Linked DNA regions of Homo sapiens: region 2 is linked to region 1. The links come from fine-mapping of genetic effects on gene expression. A gene starts in region 1. The other region holds a variant in brackets. All regions are shown on one strand. Distances are between the middles of the regions. Region 1 holds the start of ARNT2 (aryl hydrocarbon receptor nuclear translocator 2). Region 2 overlaps ARNT2-DT (ARNT2 divergent transcript).

The links. PIP is the estimated chance that this variant, and not a neighbour inherited with it, causes the effect.
Region 2: its variant is the best candidate, but not a certain one, in a credible set for the expression of ARNT2 in lung (TOPMed, PIP 0.52).

The regions. Positions count from the first base shown.
Region 1 is chr15:80,401,961-80,407,335 of GRCh38, forward strand. ARNT2 (aryl hydrocarbon receptor nuclear translocator 2) reads left to right here and starts at 2,422. Exons shown (of 19, transcript NM_014862.4): 1 at 2,422-2,586. The coding sequence starts at 2,556. ARNT2-DT (ARNT2 divergent transcript) reads right to left here and starts at 2,236. Exons shown (of 6, transcript NR_184070.1): 1 at 2,031-2,236; 2 at 1,542-1,625. RefSeq lists an enhancer at 1,853-2,353.
Region 2 is chr15:80,375,095-80,380,469 of GRCh38, forward strand. All of the region lies in intron 3 of ARNT2-DT (ARNT2 divergent transcript), which reads right to left. Among named protein-coding and RNA genes, the nearest start is that of ARNT2-DT, 26 kb to the right of the region's middle. The variant C/T (reference allele first, on the strand shown) is at 2,998.

The DNA of each region.
Region 1 (5,375 bases):
GGCTATTAAGCTGCATGACGTTGGCTACCCTGAGCCTCAGTTTCCTTATCTGCAAACTCCAGGGGCAGAATTGGATGATGTCGAAGGTCCTTTCTACCTCTGAAATACACTGACTGGGGGAGAAGATGAAATGTCTCCTTTGTGAAAATCTAAACGTATTTATTACGTACCAAAAACCACAGCACGGCCGACTCCAGACTTGGGAAGTGTCTAGCAGTTGTCCACGTGTCGCCTGTCTTTTATTGCAATGGACCAGTGCAAGAAGTAGGAAGCTTGAGCAAGATCCAGTTTTAAAGATATCAGCCGAGTAACATTTAGAAAAATGGGCAGAACACAACAGCAGAGTAAGAAAGTAAAACTTGTCAACAAATTTGTATGGTTAAATGTGTGTGTGCGTAAGAGTCATGTTCACTCATATTTTATTTTTTAGGGATGATATTAGAACTGTATTTGGAGACAAAATGAGCCATGGGTCCTGGCTGAAATGCTAAACTGATACATAAACACCAAGGAGAGGAACTTGCTTCCTTCTAAGGGGTGTGGAAAGTTGGAGAATAAAAGAGCCTCGTGGGATAGGGGGCAGTGATGCCAAGTGCTATTTATGGGCTATTTATGGGCCACCAGAGATTGAACTGCCTGTGGGGAGAAGGATCCAGAAGGGACTCTGGGTAGCAGAAATATCTGAGATGGAGTTTTACCTTTTTTGATGTGGAGTGAGTGAAGAGAGCCTCCTCTTTTACTTTCCTTAAGAAATCTTCAGTCCAGTATACGTTATACATTAATTAAGTTGGTATTTTGAGTGTGTTGCTTTTCGGGGTATGTAGAAGAGAGGCTGAATTCTCATTTGGCTTGATGTTGGAATCAGGAACAGTCAACTTTGATACGGGGCACAAGAGCGGGCCATAGCTGATACCCTGGTTTCTCTGTCTGGGCCTGGCCTATCTTGTGGCTGGGTGCACACCTGCTTTATTTTTTACTTGAAATGTCTTCTTTTTCCACCTGTCCTACTCATGTCTTCAAAGCCTAATTTTCATTTTCCCTGATCACTCCACCTCCTCTCTGCCCTCATTCATTCATTAGTGACTACAGGCTGGAGATGCCAATTTCAGGGCTTCTGCCCTAAGCCCCCAAGGGAGCTGTGTGCTTCTTGAGTGCAGATACTTTGTTTCACTCTTCCCCACTCTACCCCCCAAACCAGAAGAACAGAGCTCCTGTTTCTTCCTTTCCATGGTAGGCCCAACACCTGGCTTTGTGCCTGGCACACAGCAGACATTCAACATTTGTAGAACTGATAGACTATTAGATTAGTAGTGACAAATACTCCCCGAAGAAAATGCTTATTTGAACATACATCCCAAATTTTCTGCCCTCCAGAAAATGCTTCCTTGGAAGGATTTAAGACAGTTTGATGTCTCTGCAAACATTATCTGCGTTTAGGGACCAACTTGCCCTTCTCAGCGTTCACCTGGGATGTCTTTATTCTTCCATTTAACCTTTACAGGGGACCCCGATGGTGACGTGTCCTTCCTAGGGGCCATTACCTCTCTCAGGGATCCTAGTGTCTGGTAGAAAACAACAGCTCCAAGTTCTCTGCATCCAAACTTCGCCAGGATACGCAGATAAACCTATTTAAAAAAAAAAATCTTTTTAAATTCTCAACTTGGTGGTGTAAATAAGGCCCTTGCAGCGCCCTCAAGTAATAATCAACGGCAGTCATTATGGAAGGAGGGTAGAGATGAGCGCCTTACTCAAAGCCAAGACATTCACAATTTCTCGGGCCGGCTGCCTGTGCCTGGGCGTGTGCACTGTGCACTCCGAAGCTGTGTGCGGCGGTGGCCTTGGAGGTGCGCGTGGCCTTAGGAATTCCCGCGGTCGGGCACCCTCCGCTTAACACCGGGCCGTGTCCCCGGCCTGGGAGCCGAGCAGCGCGGCTCTGGCATGCTAAGTGGGCAGCACTGGGGCGCCTTTGTTCCTCGCGGCCGTCTCCCAGGACCGGCTTCCCTCTGAATCTAAATGGGCTTCTCCCTCACCCGCTCCGCCCTGGCCTCCTGGCCTGGGCACGGCGCCCCTGGGTAAAGCGCGCCCGGACACCTGGGGCGTGGGCGTGCGGGGGCAGCCCGGGCTAGGCGAGCGCGGGAGAGGCGCCTGCGGTCCCAGCCCGGCCAGGCCCGAGCACCTGCGCGAGCCCGAGGGAGCGCCCGGCCCTCTGCCCCCGCCAGTCGCCGGCGCCCAACTTGGGGGTCCCGCCGTCCGCAGCCCCAAGTCTCGCGGTGCTACCGCTCTGACCGGGGAGCCGCGGGCCGGGCGCCCCCCGCCGCGCGACAAAGGCTGAACCGGGAGGAGGAGGCCGAGGAGGGGGAGGAGGAGGAGAGAAAGGCGGGGACGGCGAGCGGCCGCGGCGGCGGGGAGAGCGGAGGGAGCGCCGCCCGCCCGCGCCGTCCTTTGTGTGGCGGCGGCGGCGCCTGGGCCTGACCGGGTCCCCGGGGCTGAGCGCCGGGCTCCGCGCCGCCCCTCCCGCGCCCCTGCCAAGCGGGCGCCTATCCTCTCCGAGCAAGATGGCAACCCCGGCGGCGGTCAACCCTCCGGGTGAGTAGCGGCCTGGGCCCCGCCGCCCGCCGCAGCCCGCAGGCCTTGCCCGGGGCCGGAGCGGACCAGGCGCGCCGGGCGCCCCCGGGGGCGCGGAGCCGCAGCTCGGCGCGGTGGGTGGTGGAGCGGCTGTCACTACGCGGCAGCCGCAGCATCAGCACCAGAGCGGCATCTGCATCCCAATCGCTGCCCATCCGGTCCCGGGCAGGCGCCGGTCCGGACCCGCGGGCGGCCGGACGCTGGCCTCGCATCCTCGGGAACCCGAAGGGCAGGCCCGGGAGCCCCCGAAGTTCTGAAAATAACCGCCTTTGCCTTCCCCATCCCACGCATTTTTCTCTTCCGGTCCCGGCTTTTGTGGCATCACGGCGTCAGCCAGTCCTGGCTGGTGGAGGGCTCCGCGCTGACGGAGGGAAAAGTTTGGAGCTGGGATTCAACAGGGTACAACTCCCGGGACTCTCCCCTGCCCGCCCCGCCCACTAAGCGCTGGTCCTTTGCGCCCTTTGCGACTGGCTGCTGTGTGTCCTAACCCTCCGGGGGCACAAAACACCCAGCCTGTGGTCACCAGCGTGGAGCAGCCCTGGTCCTGCCCAGGTGACATCCTCTGCTTTCTGGTCTGACCTGTCCCCAGGGTGCAGTCTGTGACAACTGAGCTCATTAGGAAATATTTCAAAAATGGAAGAGTTCTTGATCAAGTGGCAACATTGACTTGTTTTGGTATTGTAGTAGGGAAGTTCCGTTTTCACTGGGAAAGTTCCCTACCTGATGAGCAGGGTGTGGGAGAAGAGAAACGTGAACATCTAAGCTAGTACAAACTTTTGGGTGTTGTGCAGAGGCTGCTGTGGGCACGGCAGGTTGCTGGGTCCCTGTGGAAGATGCAGGGAGAGTCACAGAGGGCGGCCCCCAGGAAATTCCCAGCAGAGGGAGGTCATGTGTTGGAGATAGGGAGGGTCGGGGGAGGAACAGCAATGCCTAGCAAAGAAAAGTGTCTCTCATCATAGAATTAGGAATGAAAGATCCCTTTCATCTAAGGCGGCCAGGGAAGGCTTCTGGAGATTGGACATTTCGGCTGAACCTTGAAAACGGGAATGTTTGAATATACAGAGCCAGTAGCAGAGGGGCATTGCAGGCGTAAGTAACAGTGGACTTGCTCTAAGCAAGTGCAGAGGTCAGTGAGTAGTTGGTGCACTGGGGATATAAGAGGCAGCAGTGGGATTTAACACTGAGTTGTTTGGATGTGACCAGGCTTTAAAGGACAGACTGAGGAGTATGGACTTTCTCTCTCCACATTAAGGGAGAGTCCTCTGCACACTTCCTAAGAACCAGAAAAATAAAATAAAATAGAAAAGAGAGAGAGAGACAGAGAGAGAGAGAGAGAGACCTCAATGGTATTGAACAAGGAAATCGCATGATCACTTTTTCTGGAAGACTGATTTGTCAGCTATGTCTAGGAAACATTCTAAGGAGGGAACAAGACTTGAGACAGGGAGGCCAGCATGAAATGAGGCAGGTGCTGGGGAGGCCAGAATTGGTGGCCATGGCTGGACCAGAGAGGAAGGAATGCACCACTGGGCGGGTAGAAGAGTTCCAGATTTGGCACTGATTAGATTTGGAGTAAGAGTAAAGGAGGAGGCCAAGGAGAGACAAAGGGGAGGTGTCCATGGAGACACCAAGGTGAAGAGCCTGTGTAATTCCAAGGAAGGCAGTTCCATCAGCAGAAATAGGGACTCTTGGAAGAACAGACAAGGAGGCCTCTGTCCAGAACACTGAGGAGGAACGTGGCTGGTCTGAAAACAAATCTGTGCCAGTTTGCCTGTGACTGAAGCTGCAATTTCAACCCATTCAACTACTTCAAAATCAATGGAAAATTGATAGATGTAAATGTTATGAAATTAGAAAAAGCAAAAGATGTTAAATGAAAACATTTTAGTCCAATATACACTGGGAACAGGAATAAAATCCCTGGTGATTTACATAATTTCTATGCCAGGACATCATTGTTTAAAACTTTTTTGTCCATTACATTGCTCCATGAGCTACATGGACTAAAGATCTAAAGATGGAGTAACTGCCCCTGGCCCCGTGGTGTGAAGCACAGGAAAGCCTGTGCCTGTGCCTTGGACTGCGGGAGACTTGAATGGTACAAGCATAGGGTATTGTTGGCGTTGCTAGTCAACACCTGGCCAGCTTGACAGATGCTTTTCTCTGTTGACAGCTATACCAGAGATCTTCAGCATGGTGATAATTTCTCAAGGGAAAATTCCTTGAGGTGATCACCTTTCCTTTTACCATCATTTCTTTTACTGGTCCCCTGAGGATGATCCGTGGGGATGTGTTATTATTGCCCCATGTGAATCTCCATCTTTTTCTTTGGGAGAAAGGGTTTAATTTTAAGGGACATGGCTCAGGGTTTGAGCCAAAGAGAGAGAGTTCAGATTCTATGGGCAATTTACAACAAAAAGAGCCATGGTACCCAAGCTTGTCACCCAGAGCCTACCTCACATGGGCTTGTGAGACTTCTTTGAATTCCTTTTTCTTCCTGCCTCCTTTCCCCAGATATGGTTGCTTTGCAAAGAATAAGAGCTTGGTAAACAGAACCAAATGGATGGGGAAGCACCAGGATTTATTTCTGCTGCTAGTTCGTGTCCAGGGTACAAAGGCCACAGCCAGTCACCTCCCCACGCCCCCACTTGTTCCTTTTTTCCCAGCTGACCACTTCACAACAGCAGAACCATTTACAATGACACTCTTCTGTGATGTGTAGTGGGGATTCTCTAGGGTCTTGTTGGTGA
Region 2 (5,375 bases), 27 kb before region 1:
CCACCACGCCCGGCTAATTTTTTGTATTTTTAGTAGAGACGGAGTTTCACCGTGTTAGCCAGGATGGTCTCATCTCCTGACCTCGCAATCCACCTGCCTCGGCCGCCCAAAGTGCTGGGATTACAGGCGTGAGCCACCGCGCCCGGCCCTAAATATTTATTTTTAATAGTTATGTAACAATTTAATTATCCATTTGCCTATTCACAAACAAATATTGGTGAGTTTTCAGTATTACAATGTTGCCAGGAACACTTGTGTACTTGTCTTCTGGTGCACTTGTGTAAAGACTTCTCCAGGGCATATGTCTATGGGCTGAATTGCTGGTCGCAAGTTATGCACACCTACGGCTTTACTGGATATGGCTGGATTGCTCTCAAAATTATTCCCTTCAGGGACTCAAAGTGGCTACAACAGGTCCAGAAGTCATATTCAAACACTGCAACAGCCAAAAGAAAAGAGACAGTTTCTTCTGGTTCTTCTTAAGAATGAGAGAACCTTTCTCAAATAGCTTCCAACAGACTTTGCTTCAAGACTGTTTGCTGGGATGAAGTCTTACACTCATTCTTAAAGCAGGCATTGGCAAATCAAACCCCATAGACCACCAAGTTTTCTCAACATCGGCACTCTTAACGTTTTGGGGCAGGTAAGTCTTTGTTGAAGTGCTTTCCTGTGCATTGTAGGATGTTAAACATCATCCCTGGCTTCTACCCATGAGATGCCAGTAGCACCTCCCCAGATATGACAACTAAAAACGTTGCTAGATATTGCCAATGTCACCTTAGTAGGGGAGGGGAATAGCCTCTCATGAAGAACCACTGGCTTAGTCTGATTATTTGGTAAGGAATAGATGGTGGGAATTCAACCACTGTGACCACTACAGACCCTGTGCTGGGTCAGTGCAGGATGCAAATGAACCTTCCGGAACCCTGTGTTAAAATGCCTCCACATTGAACACCACTGCTTCTGCTAAATACTTCTTCCTAGGAAGTGTTAGATCCGTAGCTGTTTCTGCTTTTAGCCTGGCAGAGGATTAATTCCAGAATCTAGTGAGTGGCAGAAGGTACTCACAGCAATGAAACCACTTCAATTGTGCAGCTGTAGGACAGCAAGCTACTCAAGTCATCACAATATAGGCCTTGATTTCATTTTCAGGTCAAAATGTGATTGAAAATCAGGTCCTTATTTCCCTTTAGGTCCTGGACTCTTTTACATTCTTTTCTTCCAAGTTTCTTTAGAGAGCCTTGAAAATATTGCTGAATGTCAAAACAAGATGTTCCCAGTTCCCCGCCCCCCCGCCACCCTCCTAATTTATATATAGCATGGGCTAATTTTCAGTCTTCTGTTTCAGTGACAGTGACATCCTGTTCCTAACAGGTGGCAGAGTTACAGTCAGCTTCTTTGCAGTTATGGAACCATTATTTTAGGGCATATCCAGCCCTCCTAATTTATTTTATTAAATGAGGAGAAGACTCATCCCAGGGGGCTGTCATAGCAGGTAGGTGAACTTTGGCTACCTTGGCTTCTTGTGTCCCCTGGGCTTGCATATACTTGTAAACTCTGGGGAAGACTATTTGCTCCAGATGACACTGAATGGGGAACCCTCACATAGATCATTCCAGCTCTTCTCTCTGAGTGCCCTCCCTGATCATACTGAGGATTCCAAACACTCATATTCAGCACAAGCTGCAGTAGATACTTTTTTAAGAGGCAAAGGACCCACTCTTACATGCACACACAATCCTCCCCTTTTTTCTCCCACTCCTCACACTAGCCCAAGTCAAGATGTTTCTGAGCTCCTGCTGTATTCCCAGCCCTGTGCTCTGGGAGTAAGATTTGGTCTCGGCTCTCAAGGAACTCATGGAGCGGAGGGAGAGACCCCTGATGACAGTGCAAGGCAAGATTCATCAAATACGAAAAGCAGGTGCTATGGGCATCTTGAGGAAGGAGAGCTCCATGCCTGGGGTTCCCGGAACCAATGCTGGGAGTGGTTGAAAGAGAAACGGATTTGGGACTGATGGGTTTAACTCACAGCACTCCCTCCTCCAGCTTTGTGAATATATTAGTCCGTTCTCATACTGCTATAAAGATACTACCTGAGACTGGGTAATTTATAAACAAAAGAGGTGTAATTGGCTCACAGTTCTGCATGGCTAGAGGGCCTCAGGAAACTTACAATCATGGCAGAAGGTGAAGCAAGGCACCTTATTCACAAGGCGACAGGAGAAGGACAGCGCAGGAGAAACTGCCACTTTTAAACCATTAGATCTCACAAGAACTCCCTCACTATCACGAGAACAGTATGGGGGAAAACTGCCCCCATGATCCAATCATCTCCCATCAGGTCCCTCCCAAGACACCTGGGGATTACAATTTGAGATGAGACTGTGGTGGGGACACAGAGCCAAACCGTATAAGTGATCCTGAATGGAGTAGTTGGTGGTCATTTGACATTTTGATCCTTCTTTTTCTCATGTGCAAAGTGGGAACAGTAACACTTATTCATAAGGCTGATGTGTGGATGAAATGAAGTAATGGTTGTTAAAGTTCCCATTATGGTACTAGCTCAATAAAGTGATGTTCTGTTTAAAATATGAAGATGAGGAGTTCCCTACCCCTGGGAAAATTCACGAAGTAGTTTGGCAGTGTGAGTAATGCCCATAATAATTACTAACACTTCTTCAACACTTAATCATGTGCCAGGCACTATACTTACTGGTTCATTCATGCATTCTATAAATATTTACTAAGGACCTACTGCACGTTAGAGACACATCTAGGAGTTGAAGACAGAGCAGAGAACAAGACACTCAAAGCCCCTGTCCTTACCGCCCTTACAGTCTGGTGCTAGAGACAATTTACAAATTGCTGTTTCAGGAGTAATAAGCAAGTATGAGAAAACTAAAGCAGTGTAACATGGCAGAGGGGGTCCAGTGGTACTATTTTAAGGTGAGGTATCCAGGGGGTGAGAGATGTACCAGAAGTGAGATGGGTGAAGTA[C/T]GCAGATATCAGGAGAATGATATCCAGCTCAGGGAGCACAAGGTTGTGGAGACAGCAAGGTGTCCCCTGAGCTGGAGGCAGTCAGGCCAGCGTGGCTAAGGCAGAAAAAGCAATGGTGAGAGAAGAGGGAGATGAGGCTGGAGAGGCAGCCAGGGGCCAGATAGGTGGGATGTTTTGGCCTTGGTAAGGACAGTGGATTCTACTGTAAATGTGGGAGACCATTAGAAGATTGGAAGTAGAGGCTCATGGGCTGGCTAGTAATTTCAAAGTGTCCCTCTGGCAGCAGTAAAGGGATTAAGGGTGGGCGCAGGGAGAGTGGAAATGTCCAGTGCACAATCCAGGTGACCGGCTACTGGCTTGGACTAGGGTTGTGATAGGAGAGGCGAGAAGAGGTCCAGTCTCCTGTGGGATTGGATGTGGGGTGTGAGCAAAAGAGAGGAGGCAAAGGTTTTGGCCAGAGTAGCTGGGTGAACAACAGTGCCACTAACCAGTAAGAGGAACCATCAGGGAAGAGCAGGTTTGGGAAGTGGAGAATCAAGGTTTCCATACTGCCACAATAAACTTAAGATTCTGTTAGACATAAAGATGTTGTGTAGGTGGTTGGAGATATGAAATGAGTTCAGTTAATATGTGGTCACATATAAACTACTTAGTCCTCTTAAACTAAGGTACGTACTCCTATTATGCTCATTTTATAGATGAGGAAACTGAGGCACAGCTTAAGAAAATTGAAACCCTTTGGTCCTTTCAGGACAAGGAGACATGGTTCATGAATGGAGCAGGTGGAAGAAGATGAAGGTTGTCCCCATCAAGTTACTGGAGACACCAGTTGGAGCAAAGCAGTGACTATTTTAGATGCTGACTCCAAAAAAGTAAGGGCACAGATAGGACTCATATGTTGGAGGTGAGGCCTGAAGGGAGGTGTTAGGGCCATGAGGGTGGACCCCCTCATGAATGGCTCAGTGCCATCCTCATAGCAATAAGTGAGTTTTCACTCTACTAGTGCCCATGAGAGCTGATTGTTAAAAGGGAGCCTGGCATCTCCCCACCTGCCTTCTCTCTCACCTTGTTGTGATTTGCACATACTGGTGCCCCTTCCTCTTCCACCATGAGTGGAAGCAGCCTGAAGCCATCACCAGAAGCAAATGCAGGTGCCTTGCTTCTTGTACAGGCTGCAGAACTGCAAGCCAAAGTAACCTCTTTCTTTATAAATTACCCAGCCTCAAGTATTCCTTTGTAGTAACACAAGTGTTCTAAGAAACTCCCCAACGCACAGCGTTTTTCAGGACTTAACATTGCCACCTAGCCCGCCAACGATCTTTACCACCTCTCCAACGCCTTTCTCCTCTGTGGGTTCTGGGAAGGACCTGTTTACTGGGATGGCAGCCAAGAGGAGAAGGGAGAAGAGCTGTGCGATGGTCTCCATGGCCAAAATCCCCTAGAATGAGAAGCATTTTCTAAGATCCAGAAGCCCATGACAGCACTGTCTACTTTAAGGCAAGCTGTCCCAAGAAAAGCAGGTAAGCTCATTAGTGAGGAGCTGGGTCTTCCTCAATATCTATATTCCTTCCTCAAGGTCTTTATTCCCTGTTTAGGAAGAAATTCAAACCTGCTCAGCCCTGGCATCTCCCACCGGCATCTCCCAGATGCCTGAGCAGGTCTGTGGCACTAAACTCACAGGAGCGAATAGTAGAAGAAATACGTCTTCCATCCTGCCCAAGCTCTGAAACCACCTTTTGTGTTTCCTATAAATGTATTCACTCTTTTCACTGGACAACCATGGAAACCAGTAGCAAAGGCATTTTGTTAAGTTCTAACTCAAAAAGCTTAATCACATTTTGGCAGCTTTTCTCTATGACACAGACGCATAAACTTCATTCTCTCCCCTTTTGCCCCTCAGCTTTGGGTATTAGGCATGTCTTAATAGACCAGCACAGCAGTTTAAAAGGAGAAAGTGTAAGCTTCCTGATACATTGGTTAACTCTGCTTCCATTCCTTTTGCAAACTTCTCAGCATTTTCCGAGAGCAACCATCTTCCATGGATCGATATCTCCCTTTGGATCTGGAATCAGTAAGAGAGAGAACCTGTGAAATGCCATTCCTGAATAAAATATGGAAAGAGTTCATTCTGATTTTACTCATTTTTTACCATGCCAACTTCTCTCACATGTTGGAAGGATGTGTGCCCATGAAGGGGGGCTGATCAGGGGAGGAAAAGCAGGGAAGCCATCAAGACTGTGGAGGAATCAGAGCAGAGCAACGACTGTACAAAGAAGCAGCCAGCAAGCTGAGGCCAAGAAGGTCTGGCCCAGGCCAGACCAAGCAATAAAACCTGAAGGAAGGACTCTCTGTAGGGCAGTGGGACAGGGGGCAGATGT